Linked DNA regions of Homo sapiens. The protein of the gene in region 3 interacts with the protein of the main gene of each other region in a pairwise test. Each region holds a gene or a part of one and is shown on either strand. Other genes may lie near its edges. The genes, in order: MIPOL1, ADCY4, TTC23, POLR2J3, TRIM10, GRIPAP1 and TRAPPC6A.

Evidence for each region.
Region 1: the proteins of TTC23 (region 3) and MIPOL1 interact in binary tests that used the Homo sapiens proteins (3 or more experiments, as listed by UniProt).
Region 2: the proteins of TTC23 (region 3) and ADCY4 interact in binary tests that used the Homo sapiens proteins (3 or more experiments, as listed by UniProt).
Region 4: the proteins of TTC23 (region 3) and POLR2J3 interact in binary tests that used the Homo sapiens proteins (3 or more experiments, as listed by UniProt).
Region 5: the proteins of TTC23 (region 3) and TRIM10 interact in binary tests that used the Homo sapiens proteins (3 or more experiments, as listed by UniProt).
Region 6: the proteins of TTC23 (region 3) and GRIPAP1 interact in binary tests that used the Homo sapiens proteins (3 or more experiments, as listed by UniProt).
Region 7: the proteins of TTC23 (region 3) and TRAPPC6A interact in binary tests that used the Homo sapiens proteins (3 or more experiments, as listed by UniProt).

The regions. Positions count from the first base shown.
Region 1 is NC_000014.9:37,263,509-37,267,937, reverse strand, and holds part of MIPOL1 (mirror-image polydactyly gene 1 protein), read right to left. Parts: intron 2,732-4,429; exon of another isoform or gene 2,657-2,731; intron 1,001-2,656; coding exon 769-1,000; intron 1-768.
Region 2 is NC_000014.9:24,331,787-24,336,694, reverse strand, and holds the start of ADCY4 (adenylate cyclase type 4), read left to right. Parts: upstream 1-1,623; 5' UTR 1,624-2,042; coding exon 2,043-2,201; intron 2,202-3,706; coding exon 3,707-3,904; intron 3,905-4,011; coding exon 4,012-4,173; intron 4,174-4,757; coding exon 4,758-4,907; intron 4,908-4,908. Other genes in the region: RIPK3 (receptor-interacting serine/threonine-protein kinase 3), read left to right, coding at 300-520. UniProt on the Homo sapiens protein: Catalyzes the formation of the signaling molecule cAMP in response to G-protein signaling.
Region 3 is NC_000015.10:99,218,051-99,222,479, forward strand, and holds part of TTC23 (tetratricopeptide repeat protein 23), read right to left. Parts: intron 3,815-4,429; coding exon 3,691-3,814; intron 999-3,690; coding exon 848-998; intron 664-847; coding exon 538-663; intron 1-537. UniProt on the Homo sapiens protein: Participates positively in the ciliary Hedgehog (Hh) signaling.
Region 4 is NC_000007.14:102,565,851-102,569,897, forward strand, and holds the end of POLR2J3 (DNA-directed RNA polymerase II subunit RPB11-b2), read right to left. Parts: coding exon 3,985-4,047; intron 2,335-3,984; coding exon 2,160-2,334; intron 1,234-2,159; coding exon 1,201-1,233; 3' UTR 1,116-1,200; downstream 1-1,115. UniProt on the Homo sapiens protein: DNA-dependent RNA polymerase catalyzes the transcription of DNA into RNA using the four ribonucleoside triphosphates as substrates. Component of RNA polymerase II which synthesizes mRNA precursors and many functional non-coding RNAs.
Region 5 is NC_000006.12:30,154,606-30,158,918, forward strand, and holds part of TRIM10 (tripartite motif-containing protein 10), read right to left. Parts: intron 4,025-4,313; coding exon 3,794-4,024; intron 2,787-3,793; coding exon 2,764-2,786; intron 2,450-2,763; coding exon 2,334-2,449; intron 1,155-2,333; coding exon 1,122-1,154; intron 1-1,121. UniProt on the Homo sapiens protein: E3 ligase that plays an essential role in the differentiation and survival of terminal erythroid cells. May directly bind to PTEN and promote its ubiquitination, resulting in its proteasomal degradation and activation of hypertrophic signaling.
Region 6 is NC_000023.11:48,995,249-48,999,677, reverse strand, and holds part of GRIPAP1 (GRIP1-associated protein 1), read left to right. Parts: intron 1-173; coding exon 174-240; intron 241-378; coding exon 379-440; intron 441-1,497; coding exon 1,498-1,524; intron 1,525-2,320; coding exon 2,321-2,428; intron 2,429-4,429. UniProt on the Homo sapiens protein: Regulates the endosomal recycling back to the neuronal plasma membrane, possibly by connecting early and late recycling endosomal domains and promoting segregation of recycling endosomes from early endosomal membranes.
Region 7 is NC_000019.10:45,164,676-45,168,506, forward strand, and holds part of TRAPPC6A (trafficking protein particle complex subunit 6A), read right to left. Parts: intron 520-3,831; coding exon 452-519; intron 296-451; coding exon 178-295; intron 1-177. UniProt on the Homo sapiens protein: May play a role in vesicular transport during the biogenesis of melanosomes.

The DNA.
Region 1 (4,429 bases), on a different chromosome or scaffold from region 3:
AAAATAATGAGGAATGCAAATGGTAGAGAACAAGGCCCTTTTAAAAGCATCAAATTCATTTAAATGAAAAATAGCGCTAACCCAAACCAAAATGCATGTTTGGGCTTACCTTGTCCTGGAGCTGCCAGTTTTTTACTTTCATGAATGATATGTCATGTATATCAATTTAACAGTTATTTCCAAATACATAAAGAAAGGTCACAGAAAATAATATTGAATAAAATAGAATTAAACCTGTCTTTCTTCAGATGCACTTTGTGCTTTTTCACTTAGTTAACTAGACATATTATATCCATACCATGGAAACAGTAGAAAACCCTGGTAGATTCGCCAAGTTCTAATAAGTTTAGAATTAGCCAACACCAAAAAGAAAGAAGGAAAGAGGAAGAAAGGGAAGAAGGGAGGGAGAAAAAGTTCTTCCAATTCTAACTTTCTCTTTTTTTTTTTTTCTTCAGACAATCTTGCTCTGTTGCCTAGGCTGGAGTACAGTGGCACAATCTCAGCTCACTGCAACCTCCGCCTCCCAGGTTCAAGCGATTCTCATGACTCAGCCTCCTGAGTAGCTGGGATTACAGGCATGTGCCACCACACCTGGCTGATTTTTGTATTTTCAGTAGAGACAGGGTTTCACCATGTTGGCCAGGCTGGTCTCGAACTCCTGACCTCAAGTGATCCACCCACCTCGTCCTCCCAAAGTGCTGAGATTACAGGCATGAGCCACCACGCCTGGCCCCAATTCCTTCTAAATCTAAGGCTGTGAGCACTTACTTGTATTTTTCAGTAGTGCAGTAAACAGACTCATCATCTGGATAAGAACTGATGATCTGAAAATTCGTTGATCTCTGCCCTGGCCATTCTGTGTTCTCACATGTTATTTCATTAACTAATTCAGTGGATTTCCGATGCATACTTTTCTCAGAATTCATAGTCAGTTGCTCATCTGGCTGCGTACTTTTATTTATCCCCGTAGTTTCTTGTTCAAGATAACTGTGGGTTATGTCTGTATTTAAACAAACAAATAACACATGATATATTAAACACCATAACTGCATATTAAATCATTCAGTCAAATAAATATTTTTGGAAACACTCTTTAGCTTTAAACATATAGTTTCTAGTCTTACTCCTACTGTAATCAGATAAGCATTGGGATAAGTTGTAGATAATGGTAAATTTGGTCTCAAATAGGCCAAAAAGAGTTGGGACTTAAGAGTCTGAAGCAGTTGTGGGGCTGTCATGGGGACCTGGGGGCTTTTATAGTTGGCAGTGGTCCATGGACCATCCTTTTTCCTTTTGAAGAAATATGGCACTTCATAAACTGAAGAATGTGGGGCCTAAGAGTTTTTTAAAAATATGTCCCTAGGGGCAATGTTTGTTATTTTGATAATGCTTTCAGTAACTATTTCTGATTGCTTTTCATTTGAGTTACTTACAATGTTATGTTAGTGTTAGAAAGCATGGTCTGTTAATGATATAGAGGCTTTCCTTAGTGCCCGTTTATAAACTTTTGTCATTCAGATTTTAAGAGTTTCATTATACTAATGCCAGCCTATTACAGAAAACTAGCATGGTGACCATCTAATGCAAACCAAGTAAGCATTTTGAGCTGTCAAGAATGAACAAGTAATCTTCAGATGTATCTGTTCCTAAAACTGTCAAATGTAAATGGTTGTTTACTAGTTTTATAGTTCTCTTTCTTTGGCTTTAACCTAATGTGAAATTTTGTGATCCCCTGAACTCTTGATAAATTACCACTATTTAACTTGTGACCACACTATCTTCTTCAATCTTAGAGGAGATGCAGAAGCTTCCCAATAAGAGCTTCCTAATAAGAAGACTCTGTGTTGATCCCTCCTGGGTCTTAGTAATTATAACCCCTTGAAGTTTTATTACAATAAATCCATCAATTTCTGACACACTCCAGACTTCCATTCTAAAATTTAATTATAAATGTTTAATATTTTTAAAGAACCCATACTGTGTGACATGGCTCTATTTCTGGATATTTCTCATTTTGTTCAGTAGTAAAAGCTTTCAGATTTCTATTTCAAAAGGCTCATCAGAAATTTGGAGCCTGCTCTGCAAATCAGACTATCCATACTCTTCTACTGAAAATTTATTTAAAAAAAATGTTTTAGGTCAGGATCTTGCAGTGTTGCCCAGGCTGGCCTCAAACTCCTGGGTTTAAGCAATCCTCCCACCTCAGACTCCCAGTCTGAGAATTTAATTTTACTTTAGAATACACATGGCTGACTTATAAAAATTTTCCTGCCTGTCTTGTTTTTTTGACCAACTATTTTGGCAAGTATGATTCCAGCAAATCAATGTTAAATCCTCTGAAGGCTTTCAATGCTCTCCTCTCTGCCATCCTGCGTTACACTATATTAGTATTCAAACATTTGTATAAAAAGTTTGACTCTTCTAATTTATTTATTCATTAATTTACTGATCGTTCATTGAAAACTTACAGTGTGGTATGTCTTGTGGTAGCTACTGGGAAAACAAAGATGAATAAGAAACAAACACTCCACTCAAAGACTCTCTAGTACAGTGAGGATGGCAAACTCATCTAATGATCTGAATACAGTATAATAAGGACTATGCTTGGGCTATGGAGGCCAAATACATACAATATGCTAGACATACTAATGCTCACCTGGAAGACTCTAGGAAGACTTCACAAAGGCATTTGCTCCAAAAAAGGTCAAGTAGGGATATGCGAAGTAGCAAACTGCCAAAGGATAGCCAGAGTTAGATGAAATAAAAAGTTAATAGACTATAAAAATAGGAAGAATAGGAATAGATATAGAGGAGAAGAAATAAATTTAGGAAAAATGAAGAGACATTTCTTGTATTGAAATGACAAGATGTTATAGTCGGAAGAAAATTTCTAAAATCAGTATTAAGGACAAAGTCCAAGGTATGGCTCATCTGGAAATGAGTTGATGAAATAAATTAAAAGTGAACATACTTGGAGTGGAGAAAATCAAAAAGTCAAAGTGCTGAAAGTACCACCTTTGAAGGCATTGAAGTCATCCAGAAAAATGGCAGAAAATGGAGAGAAGAAATGAGAGCCAAACATCAAAGATTTCAATGACTGCAGAAGCAAGCTAAATGAGAAAGCCGACAAAAACTGACATTAGATAATCCTTCATTTGTACCTTTTCATTTTGAAATAATTTGTCTCATAAGAAAGTTGCAAAACAAAGAATTACTGTATGCCCTTTACCTAGACTCCCCAAATATTAACATTTTATCATGCTTGCTTTATTAACCATTCTTTCTATAACTATCTACACAATTTTTTTTTTTGAGAGGGTTTCGCTCCGTCACCCACGTTGGAGTGCAGTAGCACAATCATGGCTCGCTGCAGCCTTGACCTCCCGGGCTTAAGCAATTTTCCCAACTCAGCCCCCCGAATAGTTGAGACTACAGCTGTGTGCTGTGTTGCCATGCCTCACTAATTTTTTTTTTTTCAGAGATGGGGTCTTGCCATGTTGCCCAGGCTGGTCTCAAACTCCTGGGCTCAAGCAATCCTCCTGCCTCTGCCTCCCAAAGTATTGGGATTACAGGCATAAGCCACCATGCCTGACCTTACAATTTTTTTTTTTCTGAAACATTAGTGAGTAAGCAACAGGCATGAAACACTTTGACTTTTCAAGACAAATTTTAAGATACTGCTCTATCATCTTGCATTTTGCCTAATTTTCTTTACCTTATTCATAGCCCAAATTTATTTCTGAATTAGTACCTTTTCTAACCAAGAGAAGATGAAAGCAGTTAGTAACTCTAAGTTCAGACTTCAGTTATTTTCCCTAAACTCTCCAGCCCAGGAGAAGGATCTTTATGAAGCAATAATGAGACGAAGCTACTAAGAGCTTTAGCTGAGCTTATTTGTATTGCCCCATCACTTTAAAAAGAACTGCATACAGAAATATAAACACAAGCCAATAAAATGCCATTAAAGTGAAGCTATTGGTCTGTTTTGCATATTAGTCAATTTAAAAGATAAGACAAATGTTAAACAGAAAGATATTCACTTTCGATTCAAACTCTTATCTCTAGGCAGATGAAAACTTAAACCTAAAACCATCCTGTTGATTCCTCTATCTCTTTCATATGGTTTGAAACGGAAACTCTCTTTAGTAATCCACTTTAGTGTTTAATCAGTGTCATTGTTAACTCTTCTAACATTATGACTAACTGAATTAATACTATTCAACTTCATTTATCCATATGGACTTAAAGAATAAACTGTCAATCTCTTCTTCATCATTCAAAAGTTATGAAGTCTGACTTTCTTTTCTCAGAGTTAAACAACAGGAAAAAATGTATGATTACTATCAATCTCTTCATTTGCTTTTCTGTGGGCACACTGTTTTATTTAGACATAAGAATTCGACCACTTCAAACCAAATATAATTCCCAA
Region 2 (4,908 bases), on a different chromosome or scaffold from region 3:
CTTGGATTTGTCCCTGAATCTTCTAACTTTCCACAACACCAGCTCTGTGAGCCCCCTAAGTTCCATTGTTTCAGCAGTCCAGAGGACCTCCCAGCAAAAAAGATCAGGGTCTCAAATGTCAATTGCCACTCTCTAGAGCTTCTGCTAACACAATTCTGGAGAGGAGCTCTGAGGGGAGGAGCACAGGGCACACCTTGACACAGCCACTGACAAGTAGAGACTTCATACTCCCCACCCACCCCCAACTTGGCCTTTCTGACAGCTAAACCCTCCTGCCACCATCACTATTTCTCTTAAAGGGCGACCGCTCGTTAACATATACAACTGCTCTGGGGTGCAAGTTGGAGACAACAACTACTTGACTATGCAACAGACAACTGCCTTGCCCACATGGGGCTTGGCACCTTCGGGCAAGGGGAGGGGCTTGCAGCACCCCCCACCAGTAGGTTCGCAAGAAGGCCCTAAAGATCCTGAAGCCTGGAGCAGGCCACAGGGTTGGTATAATCATAGCGGGAAATAAAGCACCTTCCAAGCTTGCCTCCAAGAGTTACGAGTTAAGGAAGAGTGCCACCCCTTGAGGCCCCTGACTTCCTTCTAGGGCAGTCTGGCCTGCCCACAAACTGACTTTGTGACCTGTCCCCCAGGAGTCAATAAACATGATGGAATGCTAGTCAGTCTGAGCTCAGCCAGGGGCAGGGAGGGACTGGGATGGGGGTGGGAGCTGCCAGTGAGGGATAGGGAGGCACCACAGCTCTGCTATGGCAGGAAGTGGGGATGCTGGGGGCTGGGAGTGGGCAATGGCCTGGCACACAAGGTCAGGGCACAGCCGGCTACAACAGGAAGGAATCCTAGAGGCCTGGTTCCCCAGACCACTCTCTAATCTCAGGGCAGTGCTTCCTCTAAAGCCTAGGATGGCGACCCCACCCTAACCCTAAACTCTGGGGATAGAGGCTGTGGTCCCTTTTCTTCCGGGCTCTCAAGACTCACTTGCAGGGCTCTGGCGAGGGATGAGTTGATGTGAAAGATCACAGACCTGGCCCCGCACGGTGCCCCCAGGCTCTTAGAGATCATGACGCCACATACCTGCCTCCACCACACACTCAGGTTGCTTCCTGGACATTGCTTCCCTTTTGATTCCCAGTTGCTGTTCGGGAGTGGAAAGCTATGGCTCCTAAAGCTATACACAGGCGCAACCCCTCCCACGGAGCATGAACAGTTCAAACCCGGTGGTAGTGGTTGCCAGCCAAGCGGAGAGGTCAAGAGAATGAGCGCCCCCAACTCTGACCTAGATCCCCACCAGGACCCACATTCTTCCCTACATTCTCGCCAGGCTTCAGCCCCCCGCCCTCGGTCTCCCCACTACCAAACGTTCACCTCCATTTGGACACATCCCATTGGGTCCACCCCAGCCCACCCCTTCGCATCTCTCCCAGGGTCCACATTGCCCTTCCCTGAAGGGGCTGAAGCGGGGAGGCGATGGTGTTAGGAGAGACAAAACCAAGTGCGGGAGGAGACCAGGGGAGTCCGGCTTTGGCACAGGAAGGGGCCGGGCTGTCCCGTCGGGGAAGTGGGAGGGGGCCGCGGCGCCGGGAGGGAAGCGCCTGTCGCCCGGGACTCTGAGCCAGAGCGCAGCGGCGAGCGTGACTCCGCCATCAGGTCCCCGGCTCCCTCCCCGGACCTAGCCCACTCCGCTGCGCCAGCGCCGCGGGCAGTGAGTTCGGGGATCAGGGGAACCCGGGGCTCCCTCGCACCAACCCCAAATCCTGCCCTCCTGGCGATGAGGCTTTTCTAGGGCACCTCTACAATCCGGGTTTGAGGGAGGAGGAGGAAAGGACTGAGGGATCCCCTCATCGCCAGCTGGGAGCGGGCTGGGAGGCCGCAGGGAGGGCCTGAAAAAGGAGACGGGATTGCCACGAGGTTGGGGGCGCGGGGTGGTAGCGGCTTTGAGCGGGTGAGAAAAGCTCAGGTGGGGCCCGCCGGGCCGAAGGAGGTAACCCGGCGCCCGGCCCTAGCCAGCCCCGGGGCTCGGGGCTGGGGAGATCATGGCCCGCCTCTTCAGCCCCCGGCCGCCCCCCAGCGAAGACCTCTTCTACGAGACCTACTACAGCCTGAGCCAGCAGTACCCGCTGCTGCTGCTGCTGCTGGGGATCGTGCTCTGTGCGCTCGCGGCGCTGCTCGCAGTGGCCTGGGCCAGCGGCAGGGTGAGCCGAGCCTCTGCTGCGGGAGGGTCTCTACCTGGGGAGCATTTTCGGGGTTGGGGTTTGTGGGGTCTTCTTTTCGATGTGTTTTCGTTGCTGGGAGCAGAGAAAGAAAGGACCATTGAGCCTGGCTAGGAACTGCAGTGACCCTGGGCAAGTCACTCTACCCTTCTGGGTCTGCTCAGGGAGAAAGCTGAGTCCTGGATGCTTCTCGTTTCTGTCCGGGTTCTGACAGACTTTATGAACATCCGTGGTCTACGGGTTCTACAATAAATCCATCACCGGATTTTCCAGTTTTCCAAAGGGGAAATTCTAGGAGGCCCCTGGGGAATTCATTTCCTGCCTTTCTCTCCCTCTTAGGGGATGTAGAGCAGTTGTACCCACAGACTCCCAGAAGGCACCCTCCACCGGGCTCTCACTGAGTCCCAAAGTAAACCCATGTCCAGTTTCTGTTTGGGGAGGAAGAAGGTCTTCAATCCAATTCTAGAAATGGCCTGCCCCTGGTTTTCTTTTCACTGCTTGGAGGCAAGGTGGGAAAATCACCGGGCGCGGCCAATCCTTGCTGGTCCACGCCTAAATCCGGGAAGAGGTGGGGACAAAATGCTGGGACGGCTGTGCAGCTTCTGCTTGGAGTTGAGGCAGGTGGCGAGATCGCAGCCCTGGTGGCCAGGGAGGTGCGGGACGCCGCGGGTCCTGGCGCCCCCTGCTGCTCGAGCGCTGCCTCGCGCCGCCCTTCAAGCTGCCGGCCGCGGTCCCCGGCTCCGGGAATCTCCCGAGCAAATTGGCCAGATTTGGAGACATTCATTCCGAAGTGCCTCCTTGTGAGCTTGGATCTATCTTTCACTTGCTTCATGACGCTTTGGTTCCCGTTTGACAGATAAGAAAACTGAGGCTCAGAAACAAATAGGGGATGGGAGCCAGATCTTCTGGGTAGCTGTCCCAGCAAGATAATAGGTTGGACAACAGGAGGCTGGGCGCTGTGGCTCACGCCTGTAATCCCAGCACTTTGGGAGGCCAAGGCGGGAGATCGTTTGAGCCCAGGAGCTCGAGACCAGCCTGGGCAACTTGGCGAGACCCTGTCTTCTACTAAAAATACAAAAAAAAAAAAATTAGCTGGGCGTGGTGGCGGGAGCCTGTAATCCCAGCTACTCGGGAGGCTGAGGCATGAGAATCACTTGAACCCGGGAGGCAGAGGTTGCAGTAAGCCGAGATCGCGCCACTGAACTCCAGCCTGGGCGACAGAGCAAGACTCTGTCTCAAAAAACAAACCAACCAACCAACAAAAACCATACGAGACTGCTGAGTCTAGATAAAAGCAGTAGGACACAAGCAATTTCAAATGGTTCAACCTAAAGTGAATGGCAAGCGGAGGTGCCTTGCCTCCTTTTCGTACTTAGGCTTGAGACACCTTTCAGAACTGGGCTGAGGGGCTGGGCTGCTGGCTTTTCCTTTATCAGGTTCGTTCCTTCTCCCTGTCACAATCTTGCCTCACACACCCCTGCCCACAGGAGCTGACCTCAGACCCGAGCTTCCTGACCACTGTGCTGTGCGCGCTGGGCGGCTTCTCGCTGCTGCTGGGCCTCGCTTCCCGGGAGCAGCGACTGCAGCGCTGGACGCGTCCCCTGTCCGGCTTGGTATGGGTCGCGCTGCTAGCGCTAGGCCACGCCTTCCTGTTCACCGGGGGCGTGGTGAGCGCCTGGGACCAGGTGAGAGGGGCGGCAGGCGGGGCAGCGGGGACGGCCCGGGCTTCGATCCCTCACCAGGCCTTGAATAGCCCCACTTGGGCCTTCGGCTTCCCGCGCCCCGCCCCCAGGTGTCCTATTTTCTCTTCGTCATCTTCACGGCGTATGCCATGCTGCCCTTGGGCATGCGGGACGCCGCCGTCGCGGGCCTCGCCTCCTCACTCTCGCATCTGCTGGTCCTCGGGCTGTATCTTGGGCCACAGCCGGACTCACGGCCTGCACTGCTGCCGCAGGTGAGCACGCAAGTAGCACAGGCTGCGCTCAGGACGGCTCTGCCACGTGCTAGTAGGCTCCTTTTAGGGGGTTGTTGAGCTGTGACTCCAAGTCAAGGTGCAACGCTGGGCGCAGGATACCCAACCGTGCTTTCGCAGAGCTGGTACAACAGTGTGATGCAATGCCTGCTGTTACCAGAAGAGGGATCCAGGCCACACGGAAGGGAGTCGTGTCGTGGTTTACCCCGGGGACAACAGATGTGGTTAATGAAACCTTGACAGAGAATGAAAAAAAAAAAAAAAAAGTTTTGTGCGATGGGAGTGGGTAGCGACAGTGGAGTGGTATTCCAAGCACAAGAAACCTACCTGCAAACGTTTCCAGACCTAAGAGGTCGTGTTGGTGAAGCAGCCGAGAGTCTGGAGGAGGGAGCATCTGGGAAGGGAAACGTCCCTAGGGATGCCACAGTGTGGCACCACTTGTCCCACAATAGTTAGGTCCCTCACTGTAAAGCCCAGTCTTCCCCAGCCAGTCTTTGAGACCAACTCCAACTACACACGACAAGCACCCGGGTCCCGCGCCCTCTGAGGCTGGCCTTCACCCACAGTTGGCAGCAAACGCAGTGCTGTTCCTGTGCGGGAACGTGGCAGGAGTGTACCACAAGGCGCTGATGGAGCGCGCCCTGCGGGCCACGTTCCGGGAGGCACTCAGCTCCCTGCACTCACGCCGGCGGCTGGACACCGAGAAGAAGCACCAGG
Region 3 (4,429 bases):
CTTAGGTTGCTCTTTGGAGAAAGATAAAAGTACTAACTATGCACAACCTTCTCTTCGTGTCTCTTCCAGCTGAGTTTATTTGGTGAGTATGGAGTAAGGTGAGGAACAAAGAACAATCCTTTCGTGATCATGGATTCAGATGTGTTTAAGATCTTTCTCCTTTGAGGCTTTCATCATAAACTCAACCTGTTGAAGCATTTTAGACTGGAGCAGGGCAGGGAAAAAAGGAAGGGAGGGAGGAAGAGAAGGGTGTAGGGGCTGGGGGTGAGGAGGGAGAGCAGGTAAAACGAAAGTCAAGAGAATAATGATCAGAACTCTGGGACCCAGGGCACTCCACAGAGAGTGAAAAGTGTCACTGATGGATGCCCTGGTTGGGGCTGCTCTGACATGACTGTGTTCCTCTTTTACTTTTACACAGTGACCTCCAGAGAAGCCATGGCCGCAGCCTCATGGAGATGCTCCTCCTACCTGAGACAGATTCTACAGGCAAAGAGCCTCCCGCCATCATGTATGCAAAATCCTAAACTTGAAACTTACTGTGCAAATGATAATCTGATCCGTGCTTCAATTTCTATCCATTCTTCCTTTATAATTCTTCCACATTGTAGCAGCTCCTTTGAAAGTCTCTCTGCTTTTGTCAAATTCTCTGCAGCTTCCTTAAATCTGAATTGTGTTCAGGAAATTTTCCACTTGGTTCTAGATTCTACACCCCATGTCCTGAACTTCCTTGGCTCCCATACTTCCAATCACACTTCCTAAGTCATCCATCAGCATCAGCTTTTTACTTGGCGTGTAAGTGTTACGTGAATAGTATTTCTATTTGTAAAAGTTAGAGGCAAAAGGATACTTTTGAAGGGAGAGTAAAGCTCTGCCCATGGTATGGAAAAGCTCAATGGAAAACTTGAAAACATCTGTATTCTCACTATAGGGAGGCACAATGGAGTTGGCGAGGATTTGTCTGGCTTTTTCTGCATGTTGTTTTGCTTGCAGTGACAGTCCTGTGGACAAAGAAAAAGAGGTCTCAGTTTCTCTATCATCTCAACTGGACAGGAATACAGTTCCTTATGGTCTGGGAATCTAACAAGGTCTCCTTCACATATTGTCAAATGACACATGGAGACGTATCTGGGCAGCATGAAACACTGCCATGACTGTAACAACCAAAGAAGTGTTTTATACCAAGTACCCAAGATAAATTTTCCCCCAAATGGCCTTTTTAGAAATAAACAAAATGAGCTGGAATTGAACAGCTTTGAAACCTCACCAATAGCAGAAGCAAAATATGTTACATATAATTATAAGAAACAAACTGAATACAAGAACTATAGCATTCTGAGCAGGAAATAAAATATTCATGAATTTTAATCCTGGCTGTGTAACTGCAATCTTAATGAAATACTAAAAATTCTGAATCTTCAGCTCACCCACCTATAATCATAATGTCAGAGAGTTATTTTTTTAACATAATACATATCTGATATCTACAAAAACTTACAAACACAATTCCAGTGAGGTAACAGATTAATGTGTGACAATTTCATCTTCCTATGTGGTAAGAGACTAATATGAAACAAAGTGGAGCAAAAAAAAATCACTACTAAGAAAGAATTCCCCAGTGTGTTCCAGTGTTCCTCCACGGGCTTGTTAATCTGTGGGAAGGGAGGACTGAGATCGCTAGCACGGCTTCAGGGCTTTGCACGTCCCTGTATTCCCATCCTCCTCCCCTACACCGACAACCACTTCCACTCACATACACACAGCCCCCATCTTATGTTCTTAGTTACACAAAATTGTATCTTAGATCTCTAAAAAAATCTGTCAAAATATGAAGTTAATTCTGTTCCTATGTCTATAAAACAGGAAGAATATATTTTCTAATGGAGAAAATCAAGGGTATGTGTTTCATGTGGGAATTCTTACACAAGATTGTCTTATTACATATTTTTAAAAAGCACAGACATGTATTAGTGCCACCTGTGCTTGTGATGTTACACAAAGCATGTTGGACTGTATTTTCAACTGTGTCGAGTCCCTGAAGGAACCTGAACTCAATTTACTGGAGGCAGCATAGGGTGAAGTTCAAGAACATTGGCTCTGAAGTCAGACTGCCCAGGATGGATCCCCTGCTCCACCACTTATTATAAAACGTTGGCCTCAGCTTTCTCAGCTGTAAACAGGGATATTAAAAATACCCACCTTTGAGGACTGTGGTGAGGACTGAATAAGGTTATGCATGGAAAACAACATGCCTGGCACCAAATGAGACTTTAATAAATGGTAGATACTACTTTTACTTTAAATTGAGAAAGAAGGACTGTCACGCAGAGAGGCAGCAGGCTGTATAAGAAAAGCATCGTCTGAAACCCCAGATGGCAGGACAAACTGGCATTGAAAACCTAGGTCTGAGTCTCAGATCAGCTACTTATTAACAGTGTGGTATGGGGAAAGCTGTTCTAACTCAGACTCATTGTTTTCCCTGAATCTACAAAATGGGGTGGGAGGGCAGAGTTTAAATTAGATAATCTCCAAGGTCCCTAAGAGCCTTTGATCTAATAGGTAGGACCAGTCTATAATCAGATTTGGCCAAATTTATTGGGTGGCAATAATGAATACGCTTGGTATAGAATATGCTTGGCATTTGGTGTTTTCCACTTCTATTATTTTCTTTATTCACTGGGCCAACCCTGGAAAGTTAGCATCACCATTACCATCATCATCACTTTTCAGCTGAAGAAGCTGAGCACAGAGATGCTCTTGTCCATCTTGTCTTAGGCTGCACAGTCAGTAAGTAGAAGCCATCATCATATCCTGGGTGTCTATTGTTTTTGCCTCCCCTGCACGCATTCTCCCCTCTGTTTCCCTTTTGGGATGCCTGGCTCCTGCACATCCAATCCATGAGATGTGGCGAAGGCCTGCTTCTCCTTCAGGATCCAATGAAGCCAAAAGAAAGGTTTAGCCAATCAGACTATTCCTTGCCTTTGGTATACAACCCAAGTTGTTCCAATTAGAACCCTTCCCAAATCCCGGGATTTTGGTGGAGGGACATTCTTTTCCTCCTGGGAATGCTTATAAGGGAAGTCTAAAGTTGCAGGCAGTCTTGTTGCCACCATGTGGGCAAAACCTGGCAAAGAATGGAGCAAATACCAAGAAAAACAGAGCCAAGCAGTGGGAGAGAGAAAAATTGAATCCTGGTCACATTGTTTGAACACTGGATATGGCTAAGTCTAAAAATTTTTTCCCTTGAATTTTTAAGTTGTATGAGCCAAAAACTTTTGTTTATGCCAATTTGGGTTAGTCTTTTTAAATTTTTTGGTTATTTACAGTCAAGAGATTCTCCAATAAAAGTGTGAATGGATCCCATTCTGGGCCCCTATTCCATACCTTGGGTTTTTTCCTACAAAGTCTTCTGGCCCAACAGATTAATTTTCTCCTAAGAACCTTACTTTTGAAATCATAAAAACAAAAACAAAAACAAAAAAACCAGAAAAGTTAAAATATTTTTTCCATTTTTCCCCTTTGAATGTTTACAGGTTATATACCTTATCAACTCTTTCTAAAAAGAAATGGCTTCTTGGTATTTAGAAAGGAGAATATTAAAAAACCTGATCCTTCTAATTAAGTGTGAATCAAATTTTGGGGAGAACAGCAGAAATCGACCAACTGATCCCCCTCAGTCTAAGGCGAGCTTACCTTTCAGCTGGAGGTAGCCTTGAGCCAGATTAACATGTGCCTCTGCTAGTTTCCAATGTGAGTCTCCATAGCAAATTCTTGTCAGTGCTACGCAACGCACAAGCTCATGGACGGCCTGTTTGTACTGTTAGGAAGAGAAAACAGGCTTACCAGTTATACAACTTAAGAGTCACAAAACACAAAATCAATGCGCTTTTATATCCCTTTGATAAATACTGAGTGACTACTATGTGCAAAACATTGTTCTAAGCACTTGAGATGTATCAGAGAACAAAACAGACAAAGATCTATTTGGGGTGGTAGCATGTACATCTGGTAAGATGAAACAGACAATAAACATAAGAAGTACAATTTATAGTACATTTAAGGGTGAAAAAAAGAAATAGAATTTAAAAAATAGAAAAAGTAGAGCAGACATCTAGTCATTCTCTAGGTTTCCCAGCTGCCCACCAATGAACAGCTACTACATATGCAGGCACAACAGGGGCAAATGGTAGTGTTTTCAAATAGTACACTTTGTGTGTGTGTGTATGTGTGTGTGTGTATGAGACAGGGTCTCACTCACCTGGAGTCACCCAGGCTGGAGTACAATGGCACGATATCAGCTCACTGTAGCCTCGACCTCCAGGGGGCTCGAGCAATCCTCCCACCTCAGCCTCCTGAGCAGCTGGGACCACAGGTGTGCACCACCACACCTGGCTAGTTTTTTGTATTTTTGGTAGAGATGGGATTTTGCCAT
Region 4 (4,047 bases), on a different chromosome or scaffold from region 3:
TAATAAATTTCAGACGCCATGGCCCAAATAGCTGCATGAGGTGGGGAAGTCCTCCACATGCCTCTGCTTCCTTCGGTACCTGTTTATGAAATCAGCCGAGGTACTTCCCTGGGGAATTTCCTTTCTTTCTTTCTTTCTTTCGAGACGGAGTCTTGCTCTGTCGCCCAGGCTAGAGTGCAGTGGTGCAATCTCGGCTCACTGCAACCTCTCCCTCCTGGGTTTTAGCAATTCTCCTGCATCAGACTTCTGAGTAGCTGAGATTACAGGTGCATGCCACCATGCCCAGCTAATATTTGTAGTTTTAGTAGAGACAGGGTTTCACCATCTAGGCCAGGCTGGTCTTGAACTCCTGACCTCGTGATCCACCCGTCTTGGCCTCCCAAAGTGCTGGGATTACAGGTGTGAGCCATCAAGCCCGGACCTTTTTTTTATTTTTTGAGACGACGTTTCACTCTTGTTGCCCACGCTGGAGTGCAATGGCACGATCTCAGCTCACTGCCACCTCCTCCTCCCAGGTTCAAGCGATTATCCTGCCTCAGCCTCTCGAGTAGCTGGGATTACAGGCACCCAACACCAAACCCAGCTAACTTATTGTATTTTTAGTAGAGATGGGATGTCACCATGTTGGCCAGGATGGTCTTGAACCCCTGACCTCTAACGATCCACCTGAATTGGTTTCCCAAAATGTTGGGATTACAGGCACAAGCCACTGCGCCCAGCCCCTCCCATACCTCTTTTGGCCAAGGCAGCACAATTCAGAAGAATCTTGCCAGGGAAGACTGGTAAATGGATGTCAACGTGATGCCTATGGCTCCTGGTGGATTTAGATACCTCCTGGTGCTTATTGATATCTTTACCAGTTGCACAGGGGCTTTTCCATGCCAGACTGAAAACGCAGAAGATCAATGATCAACCTTCAACTATTTACTAGCAGAACACTGAGGGGACTGTGCGGTCACCAATACCTCCTATTGCACTTGGATAAACACCTCCCAGGAAATAGAGATGAATAGAAAGGACATAGTCAAACAAGCAGAATGGCTGCATTCCTTCAACCAGAAGGGTCCATTAGTCTGTTTTCACACTGCTATAAAGAACTATGAGAAACTGGGTAATTTATGAAGAAAAGAGGTTTAATTGACTCACAGTTCTGCAGGCTGTACAGGAAGCGTGGCTGGGGAGGCCTCAGGAAACTGACAATCACGGCAGAAGGCGAAGGGGAAGCAGGCACGTCTGGCCATGTTGGAGCAGGAGAGACAGAGAGAGTGAAGTGGGAGGGCTGCACGCTTTTAAACAACCAGATCCCACAAGCGCTCACTCAATATCACGAGAACAGCAAGGGGGAAGTCGGCCCCCATGAGCCAATCACCTCCCACCAGGTCCCTCCCACAACACTGGGAATTACAATTTGACATGACATTTGGGTGTGGATACAGAGCTGAACCATGTCAAGGGTAGTTCAACCGCTGAGATTGATTGATTGATTGATTGACTGAGATGGAGTCCTGCTCTGTTACCTAGGCTGGAGTGCAGTGGCACAATCTCGGCTCACTGCAACCTCCGCCTCCCGGGTTCAAGCGATTCTCCTGCCTCAGCCTCCCGAGTAGCTGGGACTACAGCACATGCCACCATGCCTAGCTAATTTTTGTATTTTTAGTAGAAACAGGGCTTCACCATGTTTGCCAGGCTGGTCTTGAACTCCTGACCTCGTGATCACCCTGCCTCGGCTTTTCTTTGCTGTGGCTCTTTCCCCTCTAAACTGTTCTAGATTCCCAGGCGCCCTGCTAGGAACAGGTGTGGGCCACCCTGGGGTGAGCTGCCTCCCAGAGGCCTGGAAGGACCAGGCCTTGCCAATCACCGACAAGGGACGTAGAAGAGCACCCCCAAAGGACAGTAGGTCCCCGCCCGGATCTGGCCCACAGCACCCGAGGGACCCTGCAGCACTACAGAAGTCCCATGGGGCAGACGGGAGCCACAGGCCCAGACTCCACAGCCCCTCAGTCCACATGTCCTGGAGCCTGTGGTGGAAGTCCCTGTTCTTCCATCACCGCCGCCTCTCCCTGAGGACCTCCGAAGAAACAGGCCAGGGCTGTCCCAGGCCTGGGCACACGGGCCAGTGTCCAGCCCACCCCGTCTGCCCCTCCAGGCCCCGCCCTCACCCGGAAGCGCTCCTCCAGCAGGGACAGCTCACTGATGAGGTCGGTGATGGCGTTGGTAAAGGCTTCCTGGGGGCTGTAGTCCGGCGTGGTCTGCACTCGGATGATGATCTTGTGCTCCAAGGGGTGGGGGACTTTGTAGCCAGCAAATAGCACTTGCGGGTCTTTTAGGAGTTGTCTGAGGTCCAGGGACAGACAGTGTGAGGGTCTAGCCTCATGCCCAAGCTGGGTAGCAGCCAGCTCAGAGCAGAAGAACAGACTTTCTAGCCAAAAATCCCCCCCAACTTTTTTCCCAAAAAGTCTTCAAGGAAAGTAACACTTTTAGGAAGATACCTCATGTGGGGACACCCTATCCCCGCCACACACACACACTCTGCATCCATGAGGTTGAAGGACCCGAGCTGGAAAGAGATTCCAGCAACCTCTTCCCACCGGGCACCGCAGTGCTGGCAAAGAGATCTCCCAGGCAGTGAATGTCCAGCCAGTGTTCAGTGACTCAGACCCAAAAAGCCCACAAAGAGCCTCCACGCAGCAAATAAAGGCAGCAGGAGAGGAGGGCCAGCTCCCGGCAGTGAGTGGAATGCAAATGGAACTCTGCCCTCCGAGCAGCACAGCCGCCAGCGGCTGGCCACGCACACTGGGCCTTGTGCCATGGGGCTGCATCGCGTACTGTGCCCTGGGCATGCAGGGGTCTCCTCTAGAGTGGCTCAGAGTGGCGTGAGCACCACAAGGGGGACCCGTGCATAGGTGGCAACACTGAGCTCAAGAGCAGGGGAGCAGCAGGGCCCCAGGAGAGCTTGGGTGCCCCACTGGCTGGGCTCCGGGCAGGATTCCTCCATCCCCGTGCCTGACCACACCAGGAGACTGGGCAGACCCCACTCACAGACGGGGAAAAGCCTGGCTTCGCTGGTGGCACCAGAGGGAAGAGCCAAGTCTACAGTAAAATGGCAAGTCCCTGGGCCAGAATGGCAGACACATCCCTGACCAACCACCTGGCTAGGACCTCACTGGTATAAACAAACACCCACCAACCAATGCAGGGTGCCCATTAGGGGCACTGGATAGCCACAGAACTCCTACTTCTTTCTCTTGTTAAATAGAAGTTCTAGTCTCTGCCACATACATCTTAGAGGCCCAGGTGGCACTGAGGTCACAAACGGGTGGCATGAGGGGAGCTAATCTTGACTGCTTTTCAATGTCCCTCAGCATGAATAACAAACAGGCCTACTGTGCTGGAATCTGCTGCTCGTTCATTTACAGAATGTGCACTTAATGGTGAATGTAAGGCCGGGCGCAGTAGCTCACGTCTCTAATCCCAGCACTTTGGGAAGCCAGCAGGTGGATCACCTGAGGTCAGGAGTTCGAGACCAGCCTGGCCAACACAGTGAATCCCCGTCTCTACTAAAAACACAAAAATTAGCCGGGCATCGTGGCGTGGGCCTGTAGTCCCAGCTACTAGGAAGGCTGAAGCAGGAGAATCACTTGAACCCGGGAGGCGGAGGTTGCAGTGAGCAAGATCGTGCCATTGCACTCCAGCCTGGGCAACAAAGAGAGAAAATTCCATCTCAAAAACAAACAAACAAACAAACAGTGAATGTAAATGCACGTGTTCATCTACAGAATAAGCCACTACAGAAGTGTGGCTTATGTGAAGACATGGAGGTCGGTGTCATTTTGATAAAAAGGTACCAAGATTATAAAATGCCCAGAGCAAGCCCCCAGAAGGACTTCCTGTAGCTCAGAGAGACTGAGGAAGACTTGGAACTTGTGCTTTGCCCAGAGGGGCCCATTAAACATAGCCCCTGAGAGCCTGTGACGGGAAACTTACGATTTAATGATGTTTCCCAGTGTGTGGTCTTCTTTGTTGATGGTGAATAAACAGGCATTGGGT
Region 5 (4,313 bases), on a different chromosome or scaffold from region 3:
GCCTACGTGGGCCAACAGTGTGGAACCACCTGGGAACTTGTTAGATATACGCTCTCAGAATCTGCATCCTAACAAGATGCCCAGGTGATTTGCACACAGGTAAAGCCTGAAAAGCCTGCCTCAGAGGATGTGAAAGCTCTCGTTTAGTTCAGTGTGGTCCTCGGGAAAGCTCTTCTGCTCACCGCAAGTTGGCTGGTTTCCAAAGCTGTGCGTGCCAGCTTGGATCTCCTGGGGCTGATATACCACATTCTCCCCTCCTCCCATCTCTATCCCACAGTGCAGCGACATTTCTCCCTTCAGTCCAAACTTCATGATTCCTCCCTGTTTTCCTCCCAGGGCACTGGTGACTCATTTACAGTCTTCCCTCCTGGCAGGCTCTCTGGCTCACCCCTGGGTTATTCACTCTGCCTCAGTAATTCTGAAACTGTCAGAGTCTGAGGACCACTTTTTACCACCAAAAACTGCTGCAGAGCCTTGCGTTTTGTTACTTTTAGTATTCATAAATTGAGAAGCTTCCATAAATTTAGGTCCATCTGTGGGTTAGAGAACCCCCTCCAACAACTCCGTGACTCCCAGGGTCTTAGGCTGGTTGATTGAGAAATGACAGCCTTGAAGGGGTCCATTCTGTTCATTTTTTTCCCACCCACAGGCCGCCCTCCTTCTGTCATCTGTGAAATGACATCTGAGAGGAAGCAGGGGTTCCTTACGTTCTAAAGAGGTGATTATAAACCCAGATCAAAGTCCCCTTTATCCAGAAAGCATTCCCAGATGGACTTTATCCCATTCTGCATTAATCTTTCTATCTACTCGACATGCGCAGATCAGGATGTGAGCTTCATACCACGAATGTAGTATGTGTATGTGCTTGTCCTTTCTTCATGTTTCTCCTGAGAGCCTTACAAACAATGTGACACACACACACACACAACCTATATATACACACATGTATTATATACACACACATATGTGTATATATAATATATATGATGTGTATATGTATCCATGGGTGTTTGTTATGACTATTGTCATAGTCATAACATAGTCATAGTGCAAATCCTGCAAAATTTTCTCTCCTTTCCGAGGACTTCTCATTCTCTCCCATCCTGACATAGGCTCCTTACCTGGCTCATAGTCCAACTCAAAGCATAGTTTTTCTGTAAAGAAAATAAACCAGGATGAGATTTTATTAGTCTTACAAAACCATCAGACACTTAATGATGAGAAAACTGAGGCCAAGAAGAGGGAAGGGACAAGAAGAAGAATGTAAGCTGGAATCCTCTAGACCAGTGGTTCCAAGCTTGCATCAGAATCATCTGGAGCTCTTGTTAAAACACATCTGTTTCAGATTCAGGTGCTCTGGGGTGGAGCTGAACATCTGTATTTCTAACAATTTCCTGGGCAATGCAGCTGCTGCTGCTGGTGGGAGCCCCACTGCCCTAGCCCTGATCAAACAGGGACCATGACTGCCTTGCTCACCTCTGTACCCGCAGAGCCCAGGACATAGTAAATGCTCAAGAAATATCTGCTTAGTGAATAGAGAAATGGGTTCATTTATTTATTATTCCACTTGGAAATAATTTTGGGGAGAGTCAAAGGTCAGCCTTTGATTAGAGTGAAATTTCCTTCACTGACAGGTCACTGGAAGTATTTGCAGGAAATGGAATTATGGGAAAAGTCCTTCTAGGGTGACATAACTGTGGGTGGGTCATTTCAAAATTGGTGTCATCATTCATTCTGTCATGGTTAGTGAGGAGGTGGTTGGCAGAGAGCCATGTCCCATTCCTGACTCTCATCCAAACCCTCCCCCACACCCTACCACCACTCCCTGTTCCGGAAAAGGAAGTGGAGCACAGTCCCCGTAGGACCGTCTAACTCTGAGCCAGACTAACAGAAAGAAAGTGAGAAGGAAGGAGGGACGAGCCAGATACCACAGGGTCAAGATAAATACTGTTGTTGGCTATTAATTAACAATGTTCATCATCAAAAACTTATCACATATTACAAATGTTGCTGTGGGATTTTTTAACTTATTAAGAATGATATATTGTTAATCATTATCTTTCATATTGCTTAATGACCACTAATCAGATTTGTTGAATTATTTTAAAATCAGTTTAACTTTTTCACCAGAAATATTCACCTTTATTCTCTTTCTTCATTGTCACAATATCCTAATAGGCAGATTTTATAAAAATCTGCAAATAAGGAAATCAAGGCACAGGAAGGAATAAGGCTTGCCAAAGTCACACCTTTCAGCAGTGGAGCGTGGAGGCCACTCCTAAACCCAGGCTTCATGGCCACCTGCGCTCTGTGGAGGCCTGGGGTTCTCTTACCCAGAAACATCTTCATCTCCCTCTGCAGCGGGAGGGCCTGCTGGGGAAAGTCCCGAATCCTCTGGCCCAGCTCTGGCGACACAGCCACCGGTTTCCGGCACTTTCTGGTTTCACATCTAGGGGCACAGAAATGGCTGGGTCTGGGAATTATCATCCTTAATAATGTCTCCAGACTCAGCTGGTCATCTTCTAATAGGGCATGATGGCGCTAGTTCCTGCAGGCAGACGTACTTCCTCTAGGATGAATCCCACTGCCCATTTTTGGGCATCTATGGATATACCTGAGAAGGCATTTGGGTATATAGAGGTTTATATGTAAATTTGTATCCTTAAGTGAGAATGTTATATACCTGTGTGGCAATAACTAGGCATGCAGTACATGTATGTATATTTATATGGAAAAAGAAAAGAGAGAAACTATATTGCTTACCTTATTAGAGTGCTTCTGATGTCCTAGGAGAAAGAGATACCAGAAATTCAGTTTCCAGCTTCTCCTTTCCATTTTTCTTTCCTTTCTTTTTCTACTTTTATTTTATTTATTTTTTATTTGCTTGTTTGTTTGTTTGAGAAAGGGTCTCACTCTGGTGCCCAGGCTGGAATACAGTGGCGTGATCATGGCTCACTGCATACTCAACCTCCTGGGCTCAAGGGATCCTCCTACCTCAGCATCTTGAGTAGCTGGGACTACAGGTGTTTGTCACCATGCCTGGCTAATTTTCTTTTTTTTTTTTTTTTTTTTTTTGTAGAGATGGGGTTTTGTTATGTTGCCCAGGCTCCTCCCACTTTTCTTATGACTGGAAAAGACAAAATATATTTCTAGCCCTGGACAGGAAAAGGATACCAGATGCATAGAGTCACAGAGCATTAGGACTCACCCATCTCTGTGGATCAGAGCCCAAAGCCTTTATTTTTTAGATAAAGATGGTGAAGTGACCTTCCCCTGCTCACTGGAGGCAAAGTAAGTCTCATACCAAGGTCTCCTGTTTCTCAGTCCTAAGAGCATCATTCTAAGTCATGCTGCCTTTCCAATACTTTGTGGGGACCCCAATACCTCTCCTCCAGTGTGAGGAAGTGAAATAGACCAGGACAAACTTCCTGACTGGTGGTTGGTGACATTTAGGTTATAGAGAATGGTTTGCAACTTACTTAATACTTTTTCAAAGTGCTACTTTCACTTCCATCTTACTGTTGGATCCTCACAAAAGCCCTGTGAAATATTTAAGGAAAGTATCTTCCCTATTTGGCAGATGGTGGGACGGAGAGGTGGAGACCAGAGAGCAAAAAGTGACCAGGGAACTCTTGGAAAAGCATGAACTAGAATTGAGACTTTCTGGTCCTCTGACCCACCTCCCATCTGGGATACAGAGATGTGTGAGTCAGGGAGACATGGCTTAGGCAAGACAAAGATGCAAGAGTCACAGGACAGCACAGGTGGGGCAGGGTTCCGGTTCAGGCCTCACCGTCAGGAGCTCCCTTGCTGGCCTCTCATTCTTCTCCTCCAGTTCTTCAATAAGAGCACTAAACCGGCAGATCTCCCCAGCAACCAGCAAATCAAATTCATCCCGTTGCCTCAAGATGTCCCCATCCTGGCTCTCCAATTGTGCTAAGAGGATGCTCTGCTGTTCCTCTAGAAACTTCCTCAGGTGTGCGAACTCAGAAATCACCTGTTGTCTCTTGGTGGACACCTGAGTCTGAGGGGGCAGGAGGCAAGCCCAAGAGAAAGTTTGCTTCCTCCTTCTCCCTCTGCTCCTCTTCCTCCCCTGTCCCCAGGTAGATCTGGAACTGTGTCATGGTTTCCTTTTCACTTGTCATCCCATTTCGAGAAGCAAGACTCACAGTGTTGTCTCAGCACCATCTGCTGCAGCTTCTAAAAGGGGTAGGGCTTACAGGAGGTGTAGGAGGAGGTGGTGGGGACACCCTACCTCCTGTCTTGTATGAAAAGCACATTATGTGCACAGCCCTGAGCTACTTTACAGTCAC
Region 6 (4,429 bases), on a different chromosome or scaffold from region 3:
GGGTCTGAGGGCCTGGAAGGTCACTTTGGGTGTAGCACATACAGGTCTTAAGGAGTAGCTACAGAGGCACATGGAGGGCGTAAGGTCTGTGGAGCTTAGGGGCTTGGTTCCCTCATGGTAGGGGTAGGGGCGCTTTCCTGACCAAGTCTTTTCCCTTCCTGCCTCCCCCAAAGGCTCAGCTCCTGGAACTCCGGACAAACAACTACCAGCTTTCAGATGAACTACGCAAGAATGGTGTTGGTGAGCCAGGAGGGCCTTATTAGATGGGGGTGGCTTTGGGGAATGGTGTCCGAGGTTTTCCCTCAGAGGCCTGGCAGGAAGGCCTTTCAGTTTCTTGCCACTGGCTGAGGCTGAGTTTCCCTGCTTTCCCGACACCAGAACTCACCAGTCTTCGACAGAAGGTCGCCTACTTGGATAAGGAGTTCAGCAAAGCTCAGAAGGTACCTCCCTCCACCCACCCATCCACCTACCCATCCACCCTTGCTTCTACCTATCTGACTCATTCATCCCTCCAGTGAGCACCTACAGTGAACCAGACCTAATGTTGCATGCTGTTTTCACGTAGTCATTTAAAGGATTCTCAATGGAATTCTCTTTAGTTGCTAATTTTACCTAATCCTGCTTAATTTAGTGATTAATTTTAATTTACTTTTAATTCATTTCTAATTTCAGTTACTCATTCTCATTCACTGACTTTTAATTAAATATTCAAATCTATCAGTAAATCTACCTCGAATCTGCCTCCCATCCTCTACTCACACTCCTGCCTTGTGCTCCTACTTCCCATCTCTGTCCTGGTCCAGTTGGGAAAATGAGAGCAAACCCACCTCTCAGATCCTCTAAAGATGAGATAGGATATAACCTATTGTGGCCCCTCAAGACATTCGAGGTGCTCCTTTGTCACTGCTCTGTCCCCATATCTAGCCATACCTAGCACAATGTTAATACATAATATGTGCTCAATAAATATTTGTTGGATGAACGAATACAGTATGCAGAAAATCCGACAGTCAGGAAGCTGCACTTCTCTTTGGTAGGATGCTGATTCCCCTAAGCTGGCAATGCTCTTGGCTGCCCAGTAGGGGAGCGACAGTTTCCACACTGCGTGGGAGGGACCCACAGAGACATGTATGGACAGATGTAGCAATGAAGCCACAGTTTCTGAGTCTGGAGATCCAGCCCATAAATGGTTAAATACCAGGGCATCTCCCTACCTCCCCTGTCCCCCCACCAGCCTCAAGAGCTTCCAAGAAAGGATGATTTATGTGTGCTGGGGCCCCAGGGCAAGACTTGCATTCATTCACTCACTCACACACTCATTCCATCATTCCTTTGGGCTCCAAATTGTCACACATGTTCTGTGGTTGAAGATGCTCCCATCCTGCAACCCCTGTCATCCTTGTCCTCCCAAAACGCTTGGCACAATTGTCTCCATATCCTAGTAAGGCAGTCCATCTCTGTTCACTTTAGCTCTCTTCCCACCCACCCCCACTTTAGGCACTGAGCAAGAGCAAGAAAGCTCAGGTAAGGGGATCCCTTGTGGGTGAGTGTGACTGGGAGATGTCTTGGTGGGCTATTTCTGTATGCTGATATTTCCTTGTACTGGCCTTTCTTTCTTTGTGTGCCTTTACATCTGCTACTACCTCACTGCCATGTGTTGCTGTATCTGTCCTTGTTTCCCTGTATTTGTCCTAACTCTGTGTCTCTTTCCTTCTCTCTCTTTCCATTCTTTTCTCTGAGTCTCTTTCTGTCTCTGTCTGTTTTCCTGTTCCTGTCTCTCTGACTCATTTCTCTTCCCAATCTTCTCTTTGTCTCTCCCCCTCCTGTTCCTGTCTCGGTGATTTCTCTTTTTTCTGCTTTCTCTCTCTAACTCCTTGTTTCTTCCACCCCATTCCTCTCTCTTCCTAACTCATTTCTTTTCCTGACCCCTCCTCTTCTCCCTGTTCTGTTCTCTCCCTGTTGATTTCTGTTTGTTCTTCTCTCCGTCTTTTTCACTCTCTCCCTCCCAATCCCTCTCCCCTTTTCTATCTCTCCCCCTTTCCCCATCTCTACTTCCTCTCTCCCCAATCATTATCTTCCTGTCTTTTCCTCCGCTCTCTTCCTCCCTGTATTCCCTTCTCTCTACCTTCCCATGTCTTTATCTTCCTTTCCCTGTCTCTCATTTTATCCCTCCCCATGTCTCTTTCTCCTATATCACCTCATTCTCTGTACCCTATGTCCTCTCCCACCCATGTCATTTTCTCCCTCTCTCTGTTTCTTTGCCCTACCTCCCTATCCTTTTTGCCCTTGCTGGAGTCCTGGCCCTTGTCTGCCACTGCAGGAAGTCGAGGTATTGCTGAGTGAAAATGAGATGCTGCAGGCAAAGCTGCACAGCCAGGAGGAGGACTTCCGTTTGCAGAACAGCACACTAATGGCCGAGTTCAGCAAGGTGCTGGTGCCTGGGATAGTCAAAGGGGAAATGAGGGGTAGGGGTCATCTGGGCTGAAACCTAACAGCGGCAGAGAGTGATTGGACAGGGTCTGGCCCTGGAGCACTGTCCGTGGTGCTGAAACAGGTCCTGGATTGCTGCTGGGGGGCAGTAATTTGACAGATGGGGCCGCTCACTCTGCTGGGATTAGAAGGCTTTGAGCCCTGAGGTCACCTGGTTCCTGGCCAAGTCACTCCTTTTATTTGAGCTTCAAGTCTCCATGTGTATAATGTGGGGTTGATGCTGTGGTGCTCCAAGGTGTTGGGGGGTTTTAGGCAGAGTTCTTATGCTTAATATAGGATGGAAAAGTGTTCGAGCTTCTTCCCTTTTCTCTTTCTTCTCTTCATCTGACATGAGCCTGGGGTTCTACCTCTTCCAGATAATTCATCCTGGAGCTACTAATTCTATCTCCCCATTGATTTTAGTGTCCTGTCTGTTTCTAAATCTACTGGGCAGTTGGAGACATTGTCTTTTGTTCCCTCATCTATCTTCTGTATCCACAGTTGATAATTGTCTATGTTTTTAGTGTGTTTTAAGGAAAAAAGTCTCATGGCAGCAAATTTTTTTGAGATGGAGTTTCACTCTCATTGTCCAGGCTGGAGTGCAATGGCATGATCTCAGCTCACTGCAACCTCTGCCTCCTGGGTTCAAGCGATTCTCCTGCCTCAGCCTCCCAAGTAGCTGGAAGTACAGGCATATGCCACCATGCCTGGCTAACTTTGTATTTTTAGTAGAGATGAGAGAAAATGACATGGGTGGGAGAGGACATTTAGTAGAGAAAATGACCATGTTGGTCAGGCTGGTCCTGAACTCCCGACTTCAGGTGATCCACCCGTCTTGGCCTCCCAAAGTGTTGGGATTAAAGGCGTGAGCCACCGCGCCCGGCCCAAAAATGGTATTTCTAAGGCTCCATCTGAGAATATAGTGCCTATGACCTTAAAAAAACAAAACCGAAAATAACCTTTAAGCAGGTACAATACCAGGAGAGGCAGTTGAGCAAGTAGTAGGTACCAGCAGGGACTCTGGAACCAGAAGGCCTAGATTAAAATCTTGGCTCTACCTTTTACTAACTGTAACCTTGAGGAAGTTACTTAACTTGCCTGGTTCTTGGTTCCCAAATGTTTAAAATGGAAGTCATGATAATAACAGTACCTGCCTCTTCACAGGGCTTTTGTGAGGATTAAATGAATAAATGTACGTAAATCACTTAAAACAGAGCCTTGCACATAGTATCAGCTATGGAAGCATTAGTTATAATATTATCCTTCTATTAACTCATCTTCCCTCTAAAATATTTGACTTTTTAAAAGTTTTATGGCCGGGCGTGGTGGCTCAGGCCTGTAATCCCAGCACTTTGGGAGGCCAAGGCAGGCAGATCATGAGGTCAGGAGATGGAGACCATCCTGGCTAACGTGGTAAAACCCCGTCTCTACTAAAAATACAAAAAATTAGCCGGGTGTGGTGGCACGTGCCTGTAGTCCCAGCTACTCGGGAGGCTGAGGCAGGAGAATCGCTTGAACCCGGGAGGCGGAGGTTGTAGTGAGCCAAGATTGCACCACTGCACTCCAGCCTGGGCGACAGAGCAAGACTCTGTCTCAATTTAAAAAAAAAAAGTTTTATATCCACCCTGTGGCCCTGCTTTGCCTTAGCCTCTACCACTTATCATCTGCTGTTTCTACAGCCGCCTCCCTGGTCTCTTCACTTCTAGTTTCTTCTACTTAGTTCACACCACAGAGGCTGTTCTGACCTGCAGATCTTATGACATCACTCCTTTACTTAATACATTCCAGTGCCCCAGTCCTGCTCCTAGTTCAGAGCCCCTGGTATTCACATAACTGCTGGCTTCACTGACTGACTCCTCACTGCTTCCTGCCTCCAGCCTCCATGGTATCATGATTCTTGCAGAGTGAGGCAGGGGCAGACATTCTTCCATAAATCCAGCTTGTTTCCCTGCATCTGCCC
Region 7 (3,831 bases), on a different chromosome or scaffold from region 3:
CCAGCGCAGCCTCCTGGCTTCCCTTAGAGGATCAGACAGAGCAAGAGCTGCGGCCGCCTGTGGGAAAGCTCTGGGCGGGTCCCGGCAGCCGCTGCTCTGGCGCCGGGGGATTCCCCTCCCACTCTCTTGGTCTTGCCCTCAGGAGGAAGCTGGACGGGCAGGCCGGGGTGCTCCCACCTGGTGATTGGTGCGCAGGCTGTCCATCTGCTTCTGGAACACCGCCACCCACAGGTCTTTGCACAAGAACTTGAGGACATCCAGCTCCTCCCTGAAGGCCAGCGTCTCCCGGGGCAGCCTGGTGGGGCAGTACCAAGCTGAGGCCGTGGGGCCAGGCCAGGAAGAGGGAGGAAGACAGGCCCGACTCCTGCATGGAGCAATGCAACCCTCCCCGCCCGGGGCCTGCCCAGCCCTGCCAGCCAGGCTGGGGGAGAGCAGGAGGGGCCGCGCTCACCTCTCGCCTAGAGCCTGGCCCACACGGAACCCCATACCCTCCAGGACCGACAGGCTCATCTTCTGTCCCTAGAAGGCCAGGGGAGAGATGCTCAGGGGCCCTTAGCCACCACGAACCCGGGGCCACCCAGGGGGGGACCTGCCAGGGGACCCAAAGACCAACTTGCTGGTGCTCGTCAGTTCAGGGGTGAGCAGGGAGGGGCTCTGGCACAGCCCGGCCAGGGCAGGGGCAGGCCTCTAGGGTGCTGGGGCTCCCTCACCCACCTCTGCAGACCTTGCAGGCTCTCTGGATCCCCAGATCATCAGCCCCCAAGAACCAGCTCCCCCTTCCCTCAGGAACAATGGGGGTCTTCCCCAGGCTCCCTTCCTCCTCCATGACTTTTCCTGATAACCCCCATGACAGGCTGCACGTGCTTTCAGCGCGAACCCTCACAATGCCCTGGGAAGTGGGCGCTGCGACTCCACCAAGATGCTCCAGGTGACCTGCCCAAGGGCTGGAGGCTGGGCCACAGGAAAGGGGGCTGTGGAAGTCAACCATGATCATCATGCCTTATAATATTGGCCAAGATCCCTGGGGAACACGTGGAAGCTCGGGACAGGCAGATCTTCGTTTGGGTGCTCGAAAAGGACAGTGGCTGCCATGTAGTGTCTGGAGGGTAGGCCAGGGTCCATACAGGAGGGGACTGTGCTGGCAGAGGCAGGCCCCAGGTAGGAGGGCTGCACTCGGTGTCTGTCCACGTGCCTGTGTGTGTGGAGGGCATGGCTGGAGGAGAGGAGATGCTCATGGATTTTTTTTTTTTTAAGAGATGGAGTCTAGCTTCATTGCCCAGGCTGGAATGCAGTGGCCCAATCTCTGACTCACTGCAACCTCCGCCTCCCGGGTTCTAGCAATTCTCCTGCCTCAGCCTCCAGAGTAGCTGGGACTACAGGGATACGCCACCACACCCTACTAATTTTTTGTATTTCATTAGAGACAGGGTTTCACTGTGTTGCCCAGGCTGGTCTCGAACTCCTCAGCTCAGGCAATCTGCCCGCCTCGGCCTTCCAAAGTGCTGGGATTACAGGCGTGAGCCACCGCGCCTGGCGAGTTTTCTTTTTTGGAGACAGAGTCTCACTCTGTTGCCTAGGTAGAGTGCAGTGGTGCAATGCTGGCTCACTGCAACCTCCGCCTCCCGGGTTCAAACAATTCTCCTGCCTCAGCCTCCCGAGTAGCTGGGATTACAGGCCTGTGTGCCACCACACCCGGCTAATTTTTGTATTTTTGGTAGAGATGGGGTTTCACCATGTTGGCCAGGCTGGTCTCAAACTCCTAGCCTCAAGTGATCCGCCCGCCTTGGCCTCCCAAAGTGCTGGGATTACAGGCAAAAGCCACTGCACCTGGCCATGGATCTTTTTTTTTTTTTTTTTCATTCGGGTGTTTTGCTGCAAGCAGAGGAAGGGAGGAGGCCCAGACTGGGGGGCACCAGAAATCCCAGGACGGCTGGGGCGTGAGGCGCCAGGTTTTTCAGAGAAAGCCTGGCAGAGCAGAAGTGGGGGAACAGAGGCGGCAGGTGTGCAGCCCTGAGCTGAAGGAAGCTCACCCTCCCGCTGGCTGCTCTCAGGAGCCTGCAGTCACCAGGCCTGAGCCCTGCAGCCCTCCCTCTCCTGCCCTTGACCCCCACCTTCCCTTGGGAATGGCAGCTACCGCCTCCTCCCTCCAGGGCTGCACCATCAGCGCAGCCATCCGAATGGGGATGCGAATTCTCTGCTTGGCTCCAGCCCTGGAGCGGGTCTCCCAGCCTGGAGAGCGTGTCCGAGGAAGGCTTCTTGCAGCCTGCGGGCCCAGCTGCCTCCATCCCTCCCTCACCCTCTCCTCTGCCCCCTGAGGACATTCGCTCAGACTTCTGAGCCTTTGTACCGACTTCCTTCCCTTCCTCCCTCCCAGCTTGCGTCCCCAGCCCTGCCCACTGCACACTGTCCCTGGATGAGGACACAGCTCTGTGAAGGTGGGGACCCAGGCTGACCAATTCACATCCGGCCTTCAGCAGCCAACACAGAGCTTGGCATGTGGGTGGTGCTTAACAGACTGGCTGATGAGACAACGTGCATCAACAAAGGACACCGTAAGTCCTTACCTAATGCTGTCAACAGGCTCTTGGAAACTATGGCTTTAAGCAAAATGACATATGATGAAACCAATTTCACGCAGGTTAATTAACATAAACAAGAGTGAAGTTCCAATGCCATATTTCTGGTACAAACACATCACCAAACTTCTAAATAAGGATGAAAACACTTGAAATATTAAACACTGAAATAAATGTGAGCTATACATACGTTTAAGAAAGATTAGGCCGGGCGCAGTGGCTCACTCCTGTAATTCCAGCACTTTGGGAGGTCGGAGTTTCGCTCTTGTTGCCCAGGCTGGAGTGCAACGGCGCGATCTCAGCTCACCACAACCTCTGCCTCCCGGGTTCAAGTGAATCTCCTGCCTCAGCCTCCCCAGTAGCTGGGATTACAGGCATGAGCCACCACGCCCGGTTAATTTTGTATTTTTAGTAGAGACAGGGTTTCTTCTCTTTTGGCCAGGCGGGTCTCGAACTCCCAACCTCAGGTGATCTGCCCACCTCGGCCTCCCAAAGTGCTGGGATTACAGGCGTGGGCCATCGCGCCCAGCTGAGTCCAGGAGTTCGAGTCCAGCCTGGTCGACATGGCGAAACCCCTTCTCTACAAAAAATACAAAAGTTAGCCAGGTGTGGTGGCATGCACCCGTGTCCCAGCTACTTGGGAAGCTGAGGCAGGAGGATCATCTGAGCCCAGGAGGTCGCTACTGCAGTGAGCCATGATCATGCCACTGTACTGCAGCCCAGGCAACAGCAAGACCCTGTCTTTTTTTTTTTTTTTTTTTTTTTTTTTGAGACAGAGTCTCGCCCTGTCGCCCAGGCTGGAGTGCAGTGGCGCAATCTCGGCTCACTGCAAGCTCCGCCTCCCGGGTTCACGCCATTCTCCTGCCTCAGCCTCCTGAGTAGCTGGCACTATAGGCACCCGCCACCACGCCCAGCTAATTTTTTTGTATTTTTAGCAGGGACGGGGTTTCACCATGTTAGCCAGGATGGTCTTGATCTCCTGACCTCGTGATTCACCCACCTCGGCCTCCCAAAGTGCTGGGATTATAGGCGTGAGCCACCGCGCCCGGCCCTGACCCTGTCTTAAAAAATAAATAAAAAACAAAAAACCAGTAAGACATTTACTCGCTTCCTCCAGCTCAGGGTCCTGGGTGGCCAGAGCCCGTCCTGGCAGGGCCAAAAGCAGGAATGGACCCTGGACAGAACGCCATCCCATCACAGGGCGCACACGGGCCCACACTCACTCACACTGGGCCCACGGAGACCCGGGAGCTCA